Homo sapiens: one gene and its partners. The protein of the gene in region 2 interacts with the protein of the main gene of each other region in a pairwise test. Each region holds a gene or a part of one and is shown on either strand. Other genes may lie near its edges.

What was found. The genes of interacting proteins can lie anywhere in the genome.
Region 1: the proteins of LRRC7 (region 2) and SPTBN1 interact in a two-hybrid assay, tested with the Homo sapiens proteins (one study listed by BioGRID).
Region 3: the proteins of LRRC7 (region 2) and NQO2 interact in a two-hybrid assay, tested with the Homo sapiens proteins (2 studies listed by BioGRID).

What each region holds. Positions count from the first base shown.
Region 1 is NC_000002.12:54,451,447-54,459,661, reverse strand, and holds the start of SPTBN1 (spectrin beta chain, non-erythrocytic 1), read right to left. Parts: upstream 3,336-8,215; 5' UTR 3,144-3,335; intron 2,932-3,143; exon of another isoform or gene 2,697-2,931; intron 2,496-2,696; exon of another isoform or gene 2,355-2,495; intron 2,271-2,354; exon of another isoform or gene 2,175-2,270; intron 1,954-2,174; exon of another isoform or gene 1,859-1,953; intron 1,680-1,858; exon of another isoform or gene 1,485-1,679; intron 325-1,484; exon of another isoform or gene 254-324; intron 1-253. UniProt on the Homo sapiens protein: Fodrin, which seems to be involved in secretion, interacts with calmodulin in a calcium-dependent manner and is thus candidate for the calcium-dependent movement of the cytoskeleton at the membrane.
Region 2 is NC_000001.11:69,563,988-69,571,372, reverse strand, and holds the start of LRRC7 (leucine-rich repeat-containing protein 7), read right to left. Parts: upstream 3,452-7,385; 5' UTR 2,734-3,451; coding exon 2,732-2,733; intron 2,621-2,731; exon of another isoform or gene 2,558-2,620; coding exon of another isoform or gene 2,553-2,557; intron 2,033-2,552; exon of another isoform or gene 1,928-2,032; coding exon of another isoform or gene 1,869-1,927; intron 1-1,868.
Region 3 is NC_000006.12:2,995,729-3,003,228, reverse strand, and holds the start of NQO2 (ribosyldihydronicotinamide dehydrogenase [quinone]), read right to left. Parts: upstream 3,336-7,500; 5' UTR 3,144-3,335; exon of another isoform or gene 2,862-3,143; intron 1,180-2,861; exon of another isoform or gene 943-1,179; intron 1-942. UniProt on the Homo sapiens protein: The enzyme apparently serves as a quinone reductase in connection with conjugation reactions of hydroquinones involved in detoxification pathways as well as in biosynthetic processes such as the vitamin K-dependent gamma-carboxylation of glutamate residues in prothrombin synthesis.

The DNA of each region.
Region 1 (8,215 bases), on a different chromosome or scaffold from region 2:
ATACTAGTTACGATGCAACATAATTAAAGGAGCATCATGTCATTGCACGTAAAAAAAATTAGGCTTTAAAATGTTCTATAAGAATATGCTATTAAAAAGAAAAGCTTAAAATTATTTCGACAAAATCCACACTGAATGATTTCCACTAATCATGTCTATGTTAGCAGTAGTAAAATCCTTCCACGTCAAAATAGTACTTCCACATGTAAAGTCATACATTCAAACATCAAGACAAAGCAACCACTCTACAAACCCTTCCAGGAAACTCTGCCAATGCCAAGCCTCTGCTCAGGATGTGTCACAAGTAGAGGGAGGTCTTCTCATTTGCTCTGCAACATCACAGATAGTTGTTACTAGTCTTGCCCAAGAGAAGTTCTTCACAGAAAACCTCAACTGTGGGAGACGACCTAGTGACAGCAGTTCCTTCACTGCCCAATACTTCTCCTCTCAGATGAAGGTTTTGGTCACTCCAGTAATGACAGAGTTACAAAGAGCTTAACCCAACAGAATTCTGCACCTGCTGTGTAAGTCAGAACAGCTAAACCTCCTGTGACATCAACACAGGATATTTCTTACAACAAAGTAAATCCAAAACGTTTGGATGATCCATGGGAACAACATTCATAAAAATCTGTACGCAACACGATTTTACACAACCAGCACAAAAAGTCTCATATTTTAATGGCTATTAGAGAAACTCAAAATAACGCACATACACCACACAATGTACATGCAGTTCTATTCTGCAGAGCCACATGAAATCAAAAGCAACTAACTTGGATTCATTAGAAATATTTAAAAATACAAGCAGGCACGCCCTTGGCTTGTAAACACTGACCTTCCCTTCCAACTAGCATATTGAAATTTCCTTTTTCACCTAAACATTTTAGGAAAGCCTGGGTTGACATTTGAAATATATCCCATTTGCCATCCCACACTGAATAATGAATTATAGAGATGGCATTTAGAAGGGAAATTCCCTGTGTCCTGGCCGAGACTAAACATGAGAACACTGGGAACCATCTCCTTCTGACTAGATGCCAGTCAAGAGGCCTTGGTGGTCTGCCCTTCTCCACCCTCTCCCCAGTCACAGCTGTGAAAAATATGTATACAAAAAATACATATAAACAAACACAAACGCAGTGTTACTGTCATAATCCCATTAATTACGCCCGGACACTTAACTTGGCTACCTCAATCAATAGAAATCTGAATACCAATTTAGCCCCCATCATGACACTCATACACCTAATAATCCTTAATAAAGCATCCAAATAATGCAACTGTACTTGACTTAGAAAAAGCAAACGATGAAAACAAAATACAAGCTAAAGGAATCATTTACTATCCATTAAAAAACATATAAATTCCTTTTAAAACAACCTACTGAATTTTAATATACTTATAAATGTCTTAGTGACATAAAACCCAAAATGCATTAATCATTTCATTTAAAAATGGTTTCCTACAGAAAAAATGCATACTTGGTATTAACCAAAGACAGACGAGGTACTGTAATGTCACAGTTGTGAAGGTCCAATTAATAAACACCAACTTTTCACGTAGAAAAAATTAATGCATAGCTGGGTTGTGGTTACAGATTATGGACGATCCACAGAAAAACGCTGCGACTCCCCACACTGCAACATTGCCTCCGCACACCACTGGGCCCAGTCCTTCCTGCAGCCCCTCCCTATGGCTCAGGTCCCCTGGTCGCAGATCAGATTCCGATCCGCAACCACAGGCCGGCTCCCCTCTGCCTGCACTGGTGATGCAGGGCGCCCCTCCGGCAGAGCGCAGCCCAAGAAGAGGTGCAGGAGGGATCATCCCAAAAGAAAAGACTCTCCCCTGCTCACACCTAGCTGACCTGGTCCTCCTGACGCCACATCCAGCAGAAGCTGCAGGACAAGGTAGCAGCAGCTCCAGGCCTCGGCCAAGGGCAGCCCCGGGCCTGGGTGGGGCCGGGCGGGGGCCGCAGGCGCCGAGCGGCCGTGCCAAGCCCCGCCAGCGAGAACCAAGGAAGCTGCGATACTGCTGCATTGTGCTGCATCACGGCGAGGGCACCGTGAGCCATCCATCTTGCCAAAAAAGCACATCCCCGCCCAAATAAACCCCACCGAATTCAATTTTCTGCTCCGCCGAAGCACCCCCACACGCACCCTGTCCTCACTTACTATCTGGCCTGGCTTTCGATTGGAAAAATAATGGACAGAGGTTTGCGTTCTGATCCCCACCCCCTCCTCATCTGATGGCAGCAGTTGGCACCTTTCCTATCACAAAAACAAAGAGAAGGCGCCCCCTAAAAGAGGGCCGTGGGCGTGGTGTGGGGGGTGATGACGAGCCAGCCCACCTACCCAAAGCAGGCCCGGAGGGTCCCTGCGCTGAGACAAACCTGTTGAAGAGAGGGTGGCAGGAGCTGAAGGGCGGGCGCAGCGGCGGCTCGGCGCCCGGAGGCGGCTCACGCCCAGCCCTGGGAGAGTGGGGACGGCAGAAAGGGCGGGGGGGGGGCGGGCGCACGAGGGTAGCAAGCGCAGGGATGGGGCGGAGGTGGGGGCGCGGGGCCGCCGCCTCCGGCTCAGCTGCAGCGCGGCGCAGCCGGGACCACGCCTGGCCGCATCCCCTGCACCGCTACGCGCAGAGCCCGGCCCTGTCACCGCCGCCCCCGCTCCCCACCCGCGGGGCCACAGAGAGGGCACCTGAAAATAGACCCTCCGGCTGTCCGCTGTCCGCTCCGCACCCACCTCCGCGCCAGGGGCCTCCGCGTCAGGGGCCGCCGCGCCCGGCTGCAGGGAGGCGCCGGCGGAGGCAGGGAGGAGGAATCGCCGCGCCGCGCCGGGGCTGGGGCCGGACGGCAGCGGTGCGCACGGCGGGTCTGCTGCCGCCTCACCGCAGAGCCTGCCGCCCCTCGTCCCGCATCATCCGAGTACCAATGAGCACCCGCGACCCGGGCTCCCCGCGCCGCCCCCGCCCGGGCTTTGCAGCCTCCCTGCCCCCACGCGGCTCCCCGGGCGCAGGGCAGGCGGGCAGCGGCGTCCTCCGGCCCTGGGCCCGCGCCCCTCCTCCCGCCCGTCCGCCGCCGCGGAGCCCACCCGGGAGGCAGCCCCAGTGAGTTGGCATCTCCCTGCCTCGGGCCCCCTACCTACCTCCCGGGGATGGGGTGGGGGCGCCGGGGTCCCGTCCTCCTCCCGCTCCTCGGCGGCCGGGCGGGTGGGCCGGGAGGCGACTCCGCGGGTCTGTCCGCGGCTGGGGCCGGGGCTCACAGGACGGGACCAGTGGGCGCTGCTGCGCAGGGCTGCGCGCTCGCTCCGGGAGGAGAGGCGGCCGAGGGAGGGACTGGAGGAATCCGCAGCCTGCACGGCAACAGCGGCACTGATTCCGGGGGCTGGGCGGGAGCGCGGGGGGCGGGGGGAGGAGGAGAGGAGGGCGCTCGCAGGGAGGGGGCGAGGGGCGGGGAGAGGAGCGCGCGGGGCGGGCGCGCGCGCACACACACACAAGCGCACTCCCGGGATCCCTCCCGCACGCCCTCCGCCCTCCGCACTCCTCCCTCCCCACTCCCGCCCGCTCCCTCTGCTTCGCCCGCCCTCTCCTCCTGCCCGGAGCCCCGCAGCCGCCCAGGGAGCCGAGCCTCGGGCGCGTCCACGTCCTCTCCAGCTGAGGCTCTTCCCGGGTCCAGCCCGGACCTCATCCTCCCAGCGGCGGGGACCGACCAGGCTGGCCGGGGCGGGGTGGGCACTGCTGCTGCCGCTACCCGAGCAGGACAATAGGGGCTTTGTCTCCACAGCCGGAGAGGGCCAATTTCACGTTTAATTTGAGGCTAATTCGATTATCGCCATGGAAAGAGGCGGTCTAATTTTCTACGTGATTTGTGCAGCCTCTTTTCGCCCTTGATGTTGCGTTCGGAATGCTGGGGAGAGAGGGTATTTAGGGAGGTTTTGGAGCGTCACTTGCTTGGTTGGTTTGAGATGCAGTTGGTGATGCCTTATAGGTTCTACCCAACTTGGAGAAGGGCGACGGCGACCTCTTCGTGGGAAACCTTGGGCGCTGGAGGATGGGTGGTGGGGGTCGTTCCTTGTGAGGTTAATGTATTCTTTTGCAAATGCTTTTTCGCCCACCCTTTCGCTTTGGGTAGCTGGGAGCAGACCCTACAAGTGGTTCATCCAACTCCTGCCTCTCAGTGCAGGCTCCGCTCGAACCTGAGGCCAGGTGCCCTGCCCCAGTCACTCCCGAGAGAGGGGTCGTCCGGCCGCGGTGGAGGGCCCCGTGATGGCGTGGGGACTTGCGTTTTCCCCTATGCGCATTCCCTGAAACGGAAACTGGACGTTTCCTCAAATTTTTGTCATGTGCCACTGCCCCTTCCCAGTCACCTGGTCTACCCCGTCAGCCCCTCAGGCTGTGTAGAAATTCCAGAACCGTCACTGTTGTGAAGAAAAGATGGTGGAATCACCAGGACCACGAATGGAAACGCTCTTTAGAAAAGCAGTTTGAAGAAACTGACTTTCTCCTTGTTCTGTAAAGTGCACAGGGCGGCACTGCGGGCATTCAGAGGGAGGAGGGCCCTTCCTGTTTGAAAAAGCCCCAGGGCTTTTTCCCCATACAGACCTGATCACCTGGATTAAAATAAAACAAAAATACACGGCAGCCAAGTAGTTTGTATCATGCTTATATCTCAGATCACTAGAACCTGGCCTGATGGGTTTATATGTTTGTATGTATTTTTAAATGAATATTTTAAAATAAAACTCAGTGAAATCGTCACAGCAAACTGAAGATGATTCTTCCTTTTAGGCCTTCATAGGTTTGAATGTTTGAACCTATGTTTACTTTTGATAGGAAAAAAATTGAGGAAAGCAAATAACATTTTTTCTCAGAAGGTGAATCAACACAACCAGACCGTAAACTCTCTTAAAGGTAGGGTTATTTCTTTCTTCACTCTGTACATATAGCAGGCACTTAGGTACTAAAACAAATTTGTTGAATTGAACACAATCAACTTGTAAGCTGCTGCCCTCATTAGGTAATAAGGGAAATCCACTAGAAAGCAAAGTTGTTTGCCTTTCACTTACTTATTTTTTTACCATGGACCCCAGCACCTCCCCACTCACAATGTTAATGAAATACCAAAGAAAACAGTAACAATATTGGGAAGTGCATCCATTTAAATTAATTCTTCCAGTGTTATTCTGAAATGGTTATTCCTTTATCACAGACAACGGTATTTAAATAAATTTTCATTTGATGAATGATTCACCTCCCTTACCCCATTCCACTCCCACTTACGTTGTTTTTTAATTAAAAAAAAAAAAAAGGCCACACACACCTTAGCAAGGTACTCTAGTAAAGCCCCAGTAATTATTCCAAAAATGTGAAAGACAAGGATTCAGAGTTCTACTGTAAATACCTGCATCACAATTTTGAATTCTTACCCTTAGGTGCAAAAAATCACCCTAGAGAACTCAGTGTACCAACGACCAAAAAGAAGTAACAATTCAAAGAAAAGATAGTACAACTGGAAAGATTATTGGAGAAGACATTTTTATGGAAGGCAAAATCTAAAAAAGATAAAAAGTCTTAGGCAGTGATAACAGCTCAGAAGGATTATTCCCATGTATCTCAGAAGCGGCTTAGTTTCTTCTCATATTAGAATCAGGGTTGATATAAAGGAACCTAGAAGTCTTCAATATCATGTTTGTAACATACTACTCTCCACTTTTAAAACCATGTGATTGCATATGGCTTTATCTCCCATCAAAATACTTTATTACAAAATTTTTACAGATATAAATTGTCATTTTAACTTTCCATTCAGAATGTAGGGGAAGGCTGGGCACGGTGGCTCATGCCTGTAATCCCAGCACTTTGAGAGGCTGAAGTGGGTGGATCACCTGAGGTCAGGAGTTCAAGACCAGCCTGGCCAACATGGCGAAACCCCGTCTCTACTAAAAATACAAAAATTAGCCGGGCATGGTGAGACACGCCTATAGTCCCAGGTACTCTGGAGGCTGGGGCAGGAGAATCACTTGAACCTGGAAGGCGGAGGTTGCAGTGAGCCGAGATCGCACCACTGCATTCCAGCCTGGGTGACAGAGCGAGACTCTGTCTCAAAAAATAAAATAAAATAAAATAAAATAAAAAGGTATTGATAAACAGTATTGTCTACTACAACCTGTTTTGTTTAGAAAAGAGAATGATACTCTAAGTATTTCCTTGGTTATATTATATTAACCCAATTGAACTCATCTTTTATTGTACTGATAATAGCCCAAAACTTTAAAATCAGAACATATTTTGAAAACTTGCATATATTTTTAAAATTCCTGTTTACTCCTAAACTTGCTTCCTTTTAACTCTGAACTAGTCTGGGAAATTTCCTCATATTTAAAATATATTTCATTTGGGAATTCACATGTATTAATTTTGCACTGGGAAAACCTAAAGACTTATATGTAAACTATCATTATGAATGAATTTTTTAAAGCACTAATAACATATTTACTCTTGCATAAAGTAATTTATTCTTTCATTATTCAAGAGATAGATATGCCTTATATTCTTCTCGGCTCTGAAATAGAGCAATGGGTAAAATAATTTTAAAAAATCATTGCTTTCATGGATCTTCCATTCTAGTAGATTATATCTAGTATTCCATTCTAGATATAATCAATCAATAAAAAAGTAAAAGATATGTGTAATGATAAATCTGAATAGATGGTAACCTAAATGTATAACAATATTTATAAAATGATCACAATAAATGGTCTCAGCTTTCTATAAAAGATCTTCACATTTTCTATGTTAATAATAATAATGATTATAAGTAGCAACCATAAAATGTTTTCCAGTTTTTAAAATGCTTTATCAAATATTATCTTATTTTGTCCTTTTGCCAGTTCTGTGAGGTAAATATTAACCCCATTCTGTGGATGACCAAATGGTCAAATGAGTTGCCCAAGTTCTCACAGCTAGTTAAGTGCCAGAGATATCTTAGGAGCTAGCATATCAGAGCTGTATGCCTGGGCATTGCATATGAATTACTCAACATAACTCTATTTTGCAAGATGGAAGAAAGTTCTAGAGATGGATGGTAGTGATGGTTCCACAACGATGTACACGTACATAATGCCACTAAACTGTATGAAAATGGTTAAAATGGTAAGTTTTACGTTGTGCGTATGTTACTTTTTTTAACCATTCAGAAAATTCTTTTGGGTTTTTTTTTAACTTTTATTTTGGGTTTGGAGTATATATGTAGGTTTGTAAACAGGTAAACTTGTGCCACAGGGGTTTGTTATACTTATTAATTCATCACCCAGGTACTAAGCCTATTACTCAATAGTCATTTTTTCTGATTCTCTTCCCTCCTCCCAACCTCCACCCTAGAGTAGGCCCCAGTGTCTATTGTTCCCATGTTTGTGTCTGTGTGTTATCATCATTTACCTCCTTCTTATAAGTGAGTACATGCGCTATTTGGTTTTCTCTTCCTGTATTAGTTTGCTAAGGATGACAGCCTCCAGCTCCATCCATGTTTCTGCAAAGGACGTAATCTTGTTCTTATGTGGCTGCATGGTATTCCATGGTGTATATGTATTACATTTTCTTTATCCAGTCTACCACTGATGGACATTTAGGTTGATTTCATGTCTTGGCTATTATTAATAGTGCTTCAGTGAGCATACATGTGCATGTGTCTTTATGATAGAATGATTTATATTCCTTTGGTTATATACCCAGTGATGGGATTGCTGGGTTGAATGGTCATTCTGCTTTTAGCTCTTTGAGGAATCGCCACACTACTTTCCACAATGGTTGAACTAATTTACACTCACAACAGTGTAAAAGTGTTCTTCTTTCTCTGCAATATCTCCAGCACCTGTTATTTTTTGACTTTTTAATAGTAGCCATTCTGACTGGTATGAGATGTTATCTCATTGTGGTTTTGATTTGCATTTCTCTAATGATCAGTGATATTGAACTTTTTTCATATGCTTGTTGGCCACATGTATGTCTTCTTTTGAAAAGTGTCTGTTCATGTCCTTTTCCCACTTTTTAATGGGCTTTATCAAATATTATCTTATTTTCTTGTAAATTTGTTTAAGTTCCTGATAGACGCTAGATTTTAGACCTTTGTCAGATGCACAGATTGGAAATAGTTTCTTCCATTCTGTAGGTTGTCTGTTTAGCTCTTCTGCACAGCAAATGCTCAACATTTTTAGTCATT
Region 2 (7,385 bases):
AAATTAAAAGCTTAAAAAAGAAAGTGGAATAAGAATTTAATTGGGAAAATGTTAATGACAGCCTAAAGCTGCACTAAAATTCTGAATAAAACATGGCTACTGCAACTGGACCAGGTTTCTTTATGAAGTTGTTTCTAATTCTAAGCTGCATATGTGCAGACACAAGTGATGTAGAATTTATGTGTTGGCCATGGTAAGTACACATTTTTTCTTGGATAGTCAGTTTTTTCTTAAAAATGTATAAAGAACTCTCACCTCATAATAAGTCATGAAAATTGACTGTTTTTCTTATCATTACATATTAGTATGATGCAATGCAGCATAACACATAAATAAACCACCTTTTAAAAACTTTAGCCTACTAAGATGGATTATAAAACATTAAGTGAAAATGAAATAAGAAATCTCCAAGTCAGGTAACTCTAAATGTTGGGTCATAAACAAGTTATATCTCCACTAAATTAATAAATATTCTGACCTCAGGACATTTTCCACAGGCCTGAGACACCTCAGAAGTCCAAACTCAATCACTAAACACACCCCCAATATACTTTAGCCATATGACTCTTAAGGAAACATAAAATCATTCCTACATCCCTATTTGCTCATTTTTCCCCCTGTGCAATCAATGATTTCTAAAAAGTAAAGACTTCATTGCTTTACTGTCTTTTGTAAAAACAAACAAACAAAAAACAACAAACAAACAAAAAACACCTCGTGGTAGTTCCCTTAGAGTCCTTCCTGGAAGCCAATTCAAGGAAGCCTGGACGGAGGCGTGACACTTGGACTGGGAAGGTGGTGTAATCTGTTGCGAATCACAGCAGGTTCTGAAGTGCTGGAGAACCCACGTGTGCAGGGGCTGGAGAACTTTTCCACCGTCTCCCAGAGGAAATGCCTCATTTTAAAATAGGGGGCTGGCTGGAGCAAGGGGTGGGGGTGAAGGGTGGGCGGTAAAAAAAGGCAGAGGCGAAGCTTTCAAACCGTTCACGCATGTCTACCTGTGCTTATTTTCCCTCTATTTCGCCTCCGATCAACTTTATTATTATTATTATTATTATTTTCCTTCTATAGGAGGACTTAAGCAACCAGGATGCTGAACATCTCATAGGCTCAGGCTGGAACAAAGAAAATCGAGTTCCTAATACTGTATCTCACCCGTTGGAGGGATCACGTGTCCTGCTTTCGCTGGAATGCACTCTTCTCGCCCACGCTATAAAAATCTCTATTGTGCTTAGAAATTTCGCCTAGGTTAGAATATGCTCACAAAAAATTGCTTTTCATCCACCAGGAGAGCCACATTTCGACATATACAGATACAAATCTATTTACCTGCTGACCCAGTTACCACTGCAGGTAAATTCGATGTGTTGAAAGAGTATTGGGAAAGTAATTGAAAAGAGCAGGGGGAGGACCCCTGTGTCTTACCGATCCCCACCCCCATCGCTTTTTTTTTTTTTTTTTTTTTTGTAATTCCTTTTGAAGGAGAACTTCGAAAGGAACGTGGGAGTCGCAGATGGTTCCTTTCTGAAGCCGATTCCTGGGAGTTGTGAAAGTGACCCCGTCTCTTCTCTGCCTCGAGCTGTGCCCTCTCGCCCAACCCGCTCGCTTTATGACTTGATGGGGAAGAGACAGCCAGAGAAGAGCCGGAGTAGAGGGCGGAGGCGGGTCCTTTATTCAGCCCTGATGGCCGAGAAGTAGTGTAAGGAAGCAATCTTTCAGCCATCTCCGTTATTATGAAGTCACACTATTTTAAAAGGCAATCTATACAGTCCCCCAACCCCCGCCCCCATTCTTGACTCTGCAAACAGTAAGATTAGAGACCACTGGTAGCCAATCTAATAGTCCACGAGCCAGGGTGCCATGATTACCTTAATGCTAATGTGCTTCCCTCCCTCTTTCCACGTCGAATCCGAAACACGTCCTGCATCCTTAATAACTCGGAGAGGAGGACGCAAGATCCTCAAGGGGACCCAGCGCTGGATTGGGAATAGGCAGGTTCACCAGCTTCTCGTGCCACACAAAGGAGATGTGTGGGCAGGAGTTGTCTAGCTGACAGGGAGGGAGGCAAGGTTCTCCCTGACTCCCAGGGAACACGCTCCCCCACTTCTTTCCGTCCTCCAGTCTTTCATGTTCCTTCGTCCCCTCCATCCCCCCAAACCCCACCCTTTCCCTTCAATCCCAATCACATAAAAATCTTCTAATTGTATTTTTTCAAACAGACATCGAGACATTGATACAACACCTTCCAAGATAAAGAGACAAGTGCGTCCTGCCACAAGTGTGTGTGAGTGTGTGTGTGTGTGTGTCACGATCAAACACGCGCTTCATCCCTCAGACACCTCTGGGAAAAAAGCTGACTGGAGATACCCAAGATAATAACGAGGAGCTAAACCTAATTTCAGCGGAACCAATGGTCCCAGCACCAGCGCCCAACATTTACCTTTCCTTTTCGCAGTATGTAACCCTTTAAGGTCTCTTGCCAGCTCAAGCTACTCGGTGCTCCCATGCACCCGCCCAGTTAGCACCCCATTTCCAAATGCTCTGCAACCTACCACATCTTCGCCGCCTCCCTCGGCCACCGCACAAGCAGCTCCCCGCGAGCGCCGAAGCCTCCCGCCCTGCCACCCCCGCCCCCGGCCGGCCTCTGGGGTCCCACACCTCGCGCGCCTACGGTCGCCGCGGCCGGGCCCCCGCAGCACCCTCCGCCACGGAGCGAGCGTGCCTTACTCACATCGCCGGCGGGAGAAACTGCCCATGAGGTTTCGGAGAGCGTAGTCGTGCAGCTGCCAAGGGTTATTCCTTAAGTGTTCAGGGGTCCGCAGTGGAGTGGGCGCCAGGGTCTTCGGAGGAGAAGAGGAGGGAAGGAGTAGAAGGTAGGAAGAACAGGAGATAGAGGGGAATCCAGGAAGGTGCCACGTTAGACCATGATGCCAGTGCCCTTCAGGTGGACGGCTGGAGAGGTTCCCGCGGGAAGCGGCTGAGGGGAAGCCCGAAGCGCCGGCGGGGGAGGCAGGAGCGCGTCCACTCCCCAGCCTCAGCCTGCCCAGCGCGCCGCGCTAGCGACCGCAGCAGCAGCGGCGGCGGCGGCGGCGGTGGCGGAGGCGCAGCTCCCTCCCCGCCCCCAGAAGGCTCCACAGACAATAAATCCTGGGCGGAGAAGAGACAAGCAGGAAAGGCGAATCCTGCACCCAACTCCGTAACAACCCCTGCCCGTTGCCGCGCCTGTGCAGGGCGAGGATCCCCAGGGGCCAGGGCGCAGCGGGCGTCTCGGAGGGGCTGAGCGCTCCGCAACTGCAGGAGGCGGTGGCGGTGGCCCGAGTGGGCGGCTGCAGGTCCCGCCGGCGAGAACCCGCTGCACTGGGGCTGGGTGTCCGTGGCTTCAAGCCCGGTGTTCACCCGGAGTAGGGTCCTCCTCGGTGCAGTGGCTCGGCGCACAGGTGCCAGGATTGGCAGGCGAGGAGGCGCCGCTCATGGCTCTTGGCTGTGTCTCACCGCTCTCCCCGCCCCCTCTCTTTTTTCCCACCCCCTTTTCCGACGACACCAGCTGCAGCTGCTTCAAAGTGTGAAAAATGTCAAGGAGATTTTCCAATGATAGGAGGGGGTAACCATGTTCACAACCCTCGGTCTCTTTTTGAGATCCTCGCCTGTCCCTCTGACCTCTACTCCGGCTCCCCCAAATTATGAGAAGAAAAATCCCAGTCCTGCACAGGATTGAAACGCTAGCCTTCTCCCGGCTCCGTCACGATAGGCTGCTTTTCGAGAACGGGACGAGAGGCCGAGCTCTCTGGGTTCCTCTCGCCTCCGTGGTGTTCGAGGCAGGTGGCACGAATCTCAGCGCGGGGCGGAGCGCGGCTGCCGGCTCCTCCCGCTCGCGGGCCAGCCCCGGGCGCTCGGGCAGCGCGGCGCGGCTTTCTGCAGCGCGGCCGCCTGAGCGGCAGAAGCGGCTCCCGGCCTGTGCGCCTGCCTGAGCGCCCCTGCACCCGCACTAGCTCAGTGACGCTGAGCTCGTGGCTCCTCAGGCTGCTGCTCCTGCTATCTCAGCAAAGAGGCGGCCGGGAGCGCCTCCTCGGGGTTTCCTCCCCCGCCCGCCTTGCCTGCTGCAGGTTGTTGGCTGCCAAGGAGAAAAGTCTCCGCTTGTGCGTCAGGTCGCTTCACATCAGTCATGGCAGCGAACCTTGTGCCTGCTCTTAAGTCCTCTCCTCATTCTGGGGTTGCGGCTGCTGCCCTGGGAGTGCACAAAAAGGGAAGGGTTTTCCCAACTTCCCTTCATATATTCACCGCCCCTCCTCCTGCCATGAACATTCTCTCTGACACACACACACACACACACACACACACACACACACACACACACTCTCTCTCTCTCTCTCATATGCTCCCTTACGTAAAGGCACACACACTTTCTTCTTATACGCTTCTCTAAAGTCCCAGAAGCAGCAAGACATATCAATGAAGCTAGTACTATATTTACACTTTTTTTTTTTTTTTTTGAAACGGAGTTTCGCTCTTGTTGACCAGGCTGGAGTACAATGGCGCGATCTCGGCTCACTGCAACCTCTTCCTCCCCGGTTCAAGCGATCTTCCTGCCTCAGCCTCCCGAGTAGCTGGGATTACAGGCGCGTGCCACCACGCCCGGATGATTTTTTTTGTATTTTTAGTAGAGACGGGGGTTTCACCATGTTGCCCAGGCTGGTCTCGAATTCCTGACCTCAGGTGATCCACCTGTCTCGGCCTCCCAAAATGCTGGGATTATAGACGTGAGCCACCGTTCCCAGCCTATATTTACACTTTTATTCTCTACACACATCTAATGAATTACATCTTTAAAAAAGGATATATTATGCTGGTATTCTTTTGTGGAATATAGGCTATGTGGTTTTTGTTTCTTCATTACAAGAGAGAAAGAATCTTGTCTTTAGTTCTCTAACCTCGAACACAGTCAAGACTGTGCACAGCATTCAAATGCCACTCTGGGGGTGTGTGTAAGCTCACAGTTTGCCAAAAGAAAACACACCTGATTGTATTCTTAGATTTGGAATGCTAAAGTCTTCAAGGTCAAAAATTATGTTTCCTGGCTGCTAGAAATTGTCTAGGAAGAGACTTGAGAGACTGGCACCTAATGTGCGGAGGACCTAGAGAGGAATTATTGCCCACTTTATCTGGGCCATGAAGGTGGGCTGACTTTTAAGGACAACTTGCCAGTGTTTCATATCATTTGCATATAGAAAGGAAAAGGAGTATATTTTGAAAAGCCAGATCGTTTTTTATATTGTTACAAAACACCAAAAGAAAGGGCTCTGAAAATGGCAAGGAAATGGAATAAAATTGTTAAAAGAATTTTTTTTGAATTGACTACTGTTGTGCTCTGTTTTTTTTTCACCTATAGTGTTGTCCTTTTAAACATTTTGCCACATCTCAATGTCTCTGCTGGATGAAGTGACATGAAATATTTTAGGTGCTGATTAAAAATGTATTGACAAAATAACCTGGCGCAACAATTACACAATTATAGCGGTCCTTTATGGGTTTCCAGTTCTTTTTAATACAGTCAACACAGTACTTTCACATATATTCTTTCATTTAATCCTTTCTTAAATCTAGGTGGTGGATAATCTAATCCACACTTACAGGAAGGGCACAAAGGCTCATCTCATAAGGGTGTCCAGTTGCCCTGCACTTGAGCCCAGAATTTCTTATTTTAACTTCAGGCTTCATTGTTTTGTATCAAAATATTTGACAAAAATTATTCTGTTTAAAAACACAGCCAGTTATGAGTAACTGCAGATCCTTGCATACAGGCAGCATACCTACCAATGAAGTTACCTTCTGTGTGTTAAGTGGAAGTAGTTTCCTACGTGGAAACAAACGTATTCCTTTCCAATGGAGAAAAAGATAATTTTGGAACCCCGAATTAAAAATTGATGGTGCTGATATAACACATTTCAAACTACATGTCCTCCTTTCCCATTTATCTTGTCCTAGAATCTTGATTTTGGACCATAAAAATCCAATGGATAAAATACTTTAAATATGTTCAGATGTCCACCTAATTGTTATGGGTTTTAACAAACAGGATTATAAGGTGTAAAGAGAAGGTATTCTCTTTAGAATAAGCTTTGAATACAACGGCTCCATATTTTTGTAAGATTATGAATCTTGAACAAAATCTGGCCACCTTTACTATTTAAACAATGAGACATTGAAGAGATTTCAGTGGTTTCATAGAATTATGGAACTATTGAAATGCAAATGCAGGTGCTGTCTTTAAACTTCAAGCTGCCCTGTCATCAACCCTCTGGAAATGCAGATGACTGTCTAAAAATTGGAGAAAGATAAATGCTAAATATACTTTGGATGTTGTTCAAGCAGAGGCCCAACACTAAAAACTATCACCATTTTACAAATTAGATCAAGGCAGTTTTAACAGATTTGATGTTCCTATTACATCTATAAATGTTTAGACATTAAGGCTATAAAATTTTGCAAGTTGTTAATCAATTTCTTTGACCCACACTGCTAAAATCTTTGAAATGATAATGCTTCTTAGGATAAGCAAGACTAACCTTATTTGAAAATAAAACTCATGGCGATATTAAACAATAAGATGTCAAATATCTTTGAATATTTCCCTTTGGATGCCTGAAATGCTACACTTGTCGTAAAAGATATCCCCTTTGGCAATTACTCATTAAAATAAAAGTACATATAGACAGGATAACACTTTTAGTTTTTGAGTTGTTAGTATCTTAACAGGATTGGCTTAATTAGATACTGGTAATTAGGGAAATAGAAAACATTACTGAATTTTGATGCATGAAGATGAAGGTCTGAAAACCTCAGAGACAGTAGACCTTAGTAAGACAGGATCAGTATGAGTGGGGTACTGTAAGGGTGGACAGTGATGCTTTGTTGTGGTTAGTTTTTGAAAAACCAGGCTGAGGTTCTGAATAGAAAATGGAGGTAGGTCATTAAGATTTTTCTTCAAATGAATTTGTTAGAGGGCTTTTACTATGAAATTGGCCTCTCAAATTAACAATCTGTTCTAGCTAAAGAAAATGCTTCTTTATTGTGGATTTTAATTCATTTGAATAATTATTTTGTAAACATTAATTTGCCTAAGATGAAAAAATACAGTGACCACTGATATACCCATTATGCCCATTAAGAAAGCATTATGGATATGACTGAAGCCTCCTCTCCCATTCCTCTCTCTGTCCACCCCATTCCCCCACACACAAAAGATAACCTCATTTCTAAATTTTGTATTTATTTGTACATTTATACATTCATACATTTTGTGCACTTTGAGTACTAACAATATTTTTGTATCGCTTAGCATAGGTAACCCTTATATAAATGATATAATACAGTATGCATTCTTTTGC
Region 3 (7,500 bases), on a different chromosome or scaffold from region 2:
ACTTACAGGGTGAGCCAAAATGGCGGGTCTGGAAAGGGATTATCTTAAAGGAAAAAGAGAGGAGAGTGAGTGACTTCATCATTAGCTGGGAGGCTCTACAGTGCCCTGGTGGACAGTCACTGCCTGGAGGTGACTTTGTAGAAAGCAAACTTTGGCTATCACAATGCATAGGGAGGCCTGGCAAAGCCCAGGGAAGCAGAAGGCCCAGCACTTTGAGAGGCTGAGGCAGGAGATCACTTGAGCCTAGGAATTTGAGACCAGCCCGGGCAACATAGTGAGATCCCATCTCTACCAAAGATTTTTAAAAATTAGCCAGGTGTGGTGGTGCATGCCTGTAATCCCAGCTACTCAGGGGGCTGAGATTAGAGGATTGCTCCACTCCAGACTGGGTGACAGAGTTAGGCTCTGTTTCAAGAAAAAAGAGAAAGTAAAAGAAAAAAAAGAAAGCCTGTTTGGCTGAACTGTGGTTCAAAAAAAAAAAGAGTGGATGGTGGTAGATGCAGTCAGGGAGGTGGGAGGGGTCTGACCTGACCCCTCCTAGGGTAGGGGTGAGGATTTTATTCTAAGCCTGACAGAAAGCCCTTGGAGCCTCTTAAGCTGGAGAGTAATATGGAATGATCGCCAGTTGTGGTGGCTCACACCTGTAATCCCAGCATTTTGGGGGGCCGAGGTGGGGGGATCACCTGAGGTCAGGAGTTTGAAACCAGCCTGGTCAATGTGGCAAAACACCATCTCTACTAAAAAATACAAAAATTATCCGGGTATGGTGGCATGTGCCTGTAGTCCCAGCTACTTGGGAGGCTGAGGCAGGAGAATCACTTGAACCTGGGAGGTGGAGGTTGCAGTGAGTCAAGATTGTGCCATTGCACTCCAGCCTGGGCAACAGAGCAAGACTCTGTCTCAAAAAAGAAAAAGAAAATAGAGTGATATGAAATGATTTACCTTTGTAAATGTTGCCAGTGTTTCTGCAGACTGGGGGAACACCTTATCCTGATTCCCAAAGTGATTGCCCGAAATCATGTTGTTTGTATGAAATGCTTCATTTTCACTCCTCTAGACAGGGCATCCATTCTTCAGTGTCCCCAGCTCACCACTCCCTTTTGTATTCCTTGGCCCAGTTTACATGTTTACATCATATGGCTGGTGGCATGTGAGTTTGTGACTTCTGTCTCCATCCCCCTAGCGGTTAAGAATAAGAATCTGAGGTCCAAGAGCTGAGTGACTAACTCAGCTCTATTTGAGTGACTCAGCTCTATTTTCTATACTATTTGAAATAGTGGGGAAAGACTCCAACACAGGCTCTTGACTTGCAGTTGTGTCACTGTTCACTTGACCCCAGGCACTTCCCTTGGCACCCCATCCACAGCAGTGACAGTTCTCTCCCTTTTTAGAAACTATGCACCTACCCAGGCCTACAGGAAAAAAGAGCCATGTGGTTATTAAACTGTATATACCAGGTCAAGTGGGCTCTGATATTTTTGACGTGTACATTATTTAATTTTAAGAAGTTATTTTATAATGTTTTCACTTTTTTTCCTGTGCCTCTTTCCATGTGGACAGTCCCCGTGCTGGGCATTCTAACAGACAACATCTCACAGTGTATTCAGTGTGTATTCATGCGGCAGCTAAACCATTGCCTGCATACCCTTTTGTGCCCATTTTCCTATTTCTGGGACCTTAGGTTATTTCCATTTTTTTCCCAAAACTATAAACAGCACAGCTAGAAGTATATATTATTTAATACTTGTTCCTTTTCATGTATTTCTTTGGCTGTGATCTTCGGAGATTAAAGGTTAAACTGATTTATTTTTTCAGAGATTAAAGGTTAAAGAAGCTGATTTTTGGCCGGGCGCAGTGGTTCATTAATCCCAGCACTCTGGGAGGCCGAGGCAGGCGGATCACCTGAGGTCAGGAGTTTGAGACCAGCCTGACTAATATGGTGAAACTCCATTTCTACTAAAAATACCAAAAATTAGCTGGGTGTAGTGGCACGCACCTGTAATCCCAGCTACTCGGGAGACTGAGGCAGGAGAATAGCTTGAACCCGGGAGGCAGAGGTTGCAGTGAGCTGAGATTGTGCCATTGCACTCCAGCTTGGGCAATAAGAGTGAAACTCCATCTCAAAAAAAAAAAAAAAAGAAAAAGAAAGGAAGAAGAATGAGTTCAAGACCAGCCTGGCCAATATGGTGAAACTCCCACCTGTACTAAAAATACAAAAATTAGCCGGGCATGGTGGCAGGCGCCTGTAATCCCAGCTACTCAAGGGGCTGAGGGGGGAGAATCGCTTGAACCTGGAAGGCAGAGGTTGCAGTGAGCTGAGATTGCCCCACTGCACTCCAGCCTGGGCAACAGAGTGAGACTCTTCTAAAAAAAAAAGAAAAAAGAAAAAGAGGGCCGGGAGCAGTGGCTCACGCCTGCAATCCCAGCACTTTGGGAGGCCCAGGCGGGCGGATCACGAGGTCAGGAGTTTGAGACCAGCCTGACCAACATGAAACCCGTCTCTACTAAACATACAAAAAATTAGCCAGGCGTGGTGGCACGCCCCTATAATCCCAGGTACTCGGGAGGCTGAGGCAGGAGAATTGCTTGAACCCGGGAGGCGGAGGTTGCAGTGAGCCGAAATCGTGCCACTGCACTCCAGCCTGGGCGACAGAGTGAGACTCCGTCTCGGGGAAAAAAAAAAAAGCTGATTTTTTTTTTTCCCAGAGAGATTATAGGTTAGAGAAGCTGATTTTTCATTTTTTCCACAGTGCCACAATGTCCTTGACAAAGGCAGCGCAAACCAGTGGTTCAGCCGCGCCTTCAGGGCAGCGCTGGGCAGCGCACGGGCCTAAACCCCGGTACCCCCTTTACAGACTGACCTTGGGCCCGCTGATTCCTACTTGTAATATGACTATGATACCAGCACCCGCTCCATAGGGTTGAGGGCAGATTCCACCAGACGATTCGACACCGGGACCCTGCGTGTGGGCGCGTTCCGTGAGAGCCAAGCACGATCCTATGTACAGAATGGTCCCTGGCCCGGGCGCGACGACCCACAGGGCCATATGGCCGGCCAGCTGAAATCCCTGAGAGCGTTCTGGCCGTCCAGTCCGGGAACTGTCCTTCCCAAGTCCCCCGGTCCCCGACAGGGGATCACTCACCTTCCGACCAGCGCACTCCCCAGTAGGAGCCGCAGGACTGGGACCCGCGTCTCCCCAAGGACCGCTCTAGGAGTTGCGCCAGGTTCCGGCCGCACTGGACCGCGCACTCGCTGACGCCTGGAGGGCGGGAGCGCTGCGACTGCGCCCCCGGGGACCACGGACCGGTGCCAACCTAAGCAGCCCGGAACCTGCCCCGCGCCGCGGGACTGCAGGCCTCTTTACGCAGCGCGCCTACCACGCCGAGGCCCCGCCCACTCACCCGCCCCGCCCGTGAGCCCCGCCCACACCCCGCCCCGCCCCCGAGCCCCGCCCACTCCCCGCCCCGGCGGTGCGGTGCCTCGCTCCGCGCCCGTCCGCGCCCAGGCCCCGCCTCCACAGCGGCGTCCCGCCCCACCCACACCTCGCCTCGGCCCCTAAGCTCCGCCCACTCCCCGCCCCTGAGGTCCATCTGGGGCCTCGCCCGGCGATCTGGGACTGGGGAGGACCCTGCTGACTTCCAGGCAGGTGGAAACTGGATTGATAGAAATCCAGCGCGGGGAGGCTGTGCTGAGAGGAGGGACGCCCCTGCCCTGCGCCTCCCGCTCCCCATCTCTGGCTGGTATCCCGGTTACAGAATGAGGGTCCGTGGTGCAACAGAAAGAATGAGCCACTGATACACTCATCAGCTTGCTCGGATCTCCCGGGGAGTTACGCTGGTGAGAGAAACCAGTCCCAAAGGTCACTCACCGACGGCGCCGCTGGTGTACTGGTATTATGCAAGATGCCCTCGCAAAGGTCACGCACGGATGGTTCATTTATCCAAAGACCAAAGGAGAGAAATGCAGGACTCATTAGCAGTGCCCAGGAGATAGGGGGGCGGGTGGGTGTGGCTATAAAAACGCAACCCGGGGGGTGCCTGTGAAGGAAATCTGCGTCCCGCGGAACGCAACACGCTGTTGGGATACTGGATTGTCCTTTGTGAGATGCCACTATCGGGGGAAACCGGATGGCTTCACAGAAAAAGTTCGTTTAAAGGAAAATGGTTTAAGGCCAAGGAAATACCTAGAAAACGGAAAGTCTTGAAACCAGAGCCGGTGGGGAGTTATGGGGGGCGGTGCTGGTGAACAGTTTGGGCCGACTTTTTCCAGCGCTTGCTGGCTTCTGCCACCTCATTTGGCAGTCACCTGCCACTGTGACCTCCCCAAGTCCCTTCTCCAAACTCAATTCCTTGATTTCTGGTGTCCCGGGATGGCCCCACTCCAACAATAGAGCAGAAGGAAGGAAGGTTTCCCCTGTGTTTAGAACGTTCCTAACGAAAATAACTGCAACTCTTGATTGTACCTCCTGAGGGTCGTTGGGACTTTCCCTCTCAGACATTTATTGGTTCATTCATTCGTTCATTTTGCTGTAACTCACAGTGGCCCTCCCCATCCTAAGGTGCACTGCTGGGATTGGTCTATGTGCTGATGATGTTCTCCTTGTCTTCAGAGGTGAGAATGTGCCCTCCCTCCGAGATGCCCTCTTGCCCCTGAGCTCCCCAGCAGGGAATAGGCTGCCTTGTCTTGTGAGTCCAGATCCTGGGAACAACTTTCATTTAGGAATGGAACAGCAGGTCCTGGGAGCATTGGCGCCTGCGCGCCCATCATGCGCGTGTGTGATGCAACATCACCACCTTGTGGCAGCGAGGAGCTATCACAACGTGGACTGAGCAAGTTGCTCCCTGCTTGGGGTTGGGAGCTGGACTGGCCTAGTTCCCTGGGTCTTTTGTAACCTGAATGGTGGTAGATTCCAGGACAGTTCAGTAGGAGCCCATCCTCAAAAGGAAAATAACAGAACTTCCTGCTAATCTGGTATTGGGGCTGAGCAATTACTGCACACTAATGAGATTGACCATAATTGCATCCTGAGTTTGAGGAGGAGGTCATGCTACTAAAATGAGATAAAATCAGCTCCAACGACAAACATCATCTCTGGGGGTTTCCAGATTCTCACTTTTCATTTAATCCCCAGCCTTAGTGGAAAGCAAGAGTCGGAGTCGGCATTCTGGGCAGGGAGGCAGGTGAGGCAGGTACACATCTCCTCTTCTCCCCAACGCCCCATGTTTCTATTTCTGAATAAAATGAACCATCATGGTGCTAAGGTAAAGCTAAACTAGCTGAGCCACCTCCTGAAGAGGTCATTGCTTTTGTTTTTATTTAATGAGATTTCTTTCCCTTCTGCTACCAGCATCCCTATTCCTTTGGAAAACTGCTTCTTCATAATAACATAAAGGTTTTGGATTTTTTGTTTTGTTTTTTGGGTAGCAAAATCTGTATAACATGAAATTTTCTATTTTCACCATTTTAAGTGTACAATTCAGTGGCATAAATTACCTTTAGAGTGCTGTGCAACCATTACAACTATTTATTTTCAAAACGTTTTCATCATCCCAAATAGAAACACTTGGGTCAGGGGCCATAGATCACGCCTGTAATCCCAGCACTTTGGGAGGCAGAGGCATGCAGATCACCTGAGGTCAAAAGTTTGAGACCAGCCTGGCCAACATGGCGAAACCCCATCTCTACAAAAATTTGCCAGGTGGTGTACACCTGTAATCCCAGCTACTCAGAGGCTGAGGCAGGAGAATTGCTTGAACCCAGGAGGCGGAGGCTGCAGTGAGCTGAGATCGTGGCACTGCACTCCAGCCTGGATGACAGAGCGAGACCCTGTCTCAAACAAAAACAAAAACAAATAGAAACACTGCACTCATTGGATAATAAATCCCCATTCTCCCCTCCTTCCACTCCTGGTAGCCTCTAATCTACTTTCTGTCTCCATGAATTTGTCTATTGCATGTATTTCATATAAGTGGAATCCTACAAGATGTGGCCTTTTCACTAAGCTTTTTTTCCTCAAAAACCTTGTTGCTGAGTTTCATCCATGTTGTAGTATGCATCAGAACTTCATTCCTTTTTATGGCCGAATAATAGAAAAATGTGTATACCGCCTGGCCAACGTGGGGAAACCCCATCTCTACTAAAAACACAAAAATTAGCTGGGCATGGTGGTGTGCACCTGTAGTCCCAGCTACTCGGGAGGCTGAGGCAGGAGAATCACTTGAACCCAGGAGGCAGAGGTGGCGGTGAGCTGAGATTGTGTCATTGCACTCAAGCCTGGGCAACAAGAGCAAGACTGACAGAAAGAAAAGAAAGAAGAAAGAGAGAAAGAAAAAGAAAGGAAGGAAGGAAGGAAGGAAGGAAGGAAGGAAGGAAGGAAGGAAGGAAGGAAGGAAGGAAGGGTACCAGGCATTGTTTATCCACTCATCTGTTGTTTGACTATTGTGAATAATATTGCAATGATTATTGGTGTACAAGTATCTGTTTCAGTCCCTGTGTTCAATAATTTTGGTTATACACCTTGGAGTGGAATTGTCGGTATTACAATTCTATGGTCATTCTATGTTTAGCTTTCTGAGGAACAGCCAAACTGTTTTCCACAGCGTCTACACCATTTCACATTTTCACCAACAATGTACACAGGTTCCAACTTCTCTACATTCTCACGCACATTTGTTATGTTTCTTTTTTTTCCCTCTAAATTATAGCCATCCTAGCAAGTGCGAAGTGGTATCTCATTGTGGTTTTGATTTGCATTTCCCTAAGGACTAATGACTTTGAGCATCTTTTCATGTGCTTACTGGCCATTTGTATACCTTCCTTGGAGAAATGTCTATTCAAGTCCTTTGTTGACCATTTAATTGGGTTGTTTGTCTATTTGTTGTTGAGTTGTAGGTTTTTTGTTTGTTTTTTGAGACGGAGTTTTGCTCTTGTTGCCCAGGCTGGAGTGCAATGGCGAGATCTCGGCTCACCGCAACCTCCGCCTCCTGGGTTCAAGTGATTCTTATGCCTCAGCCTCCCGAGTAGCTGGGATTACGGGAATACGCCACCACGCCTGGCTAATTTTATATTTTTAGTAGAGACAGGGTTTCTCCATGTTGGTCAGCCTGGTCTCAAACTCCCGACCTTAGGTGATCCGCCCACGTCGGCCTCCCAAAGTGCTGGGATTACAGGCGTGAGCCACCGCACCCGGCCGAGTTGTAGGTGTTCTTTACATATTCTGGATGTTATCAGACATAGGATTTACAAATATTTTCTCCCATTCTGTAGGTTGTCTTTCACTTTCTTGAAAATGTCCTTTGATATAAAAGTTTCACATTTTTTATGAACTCCAATTTACCTATTTTTTGTTGTTTCTTCCTGGGCTTTTAGTGTCTTATCTAAGAACCCAAAACACAAGATCATGAAGATTTACTCTTACGTTTTCCTCTATATGGCTTTAGTTCTTATATTTAGGTTGTGAATTATTTTTCACATATGGTGTGAAGTGGAGCCCAACTTTA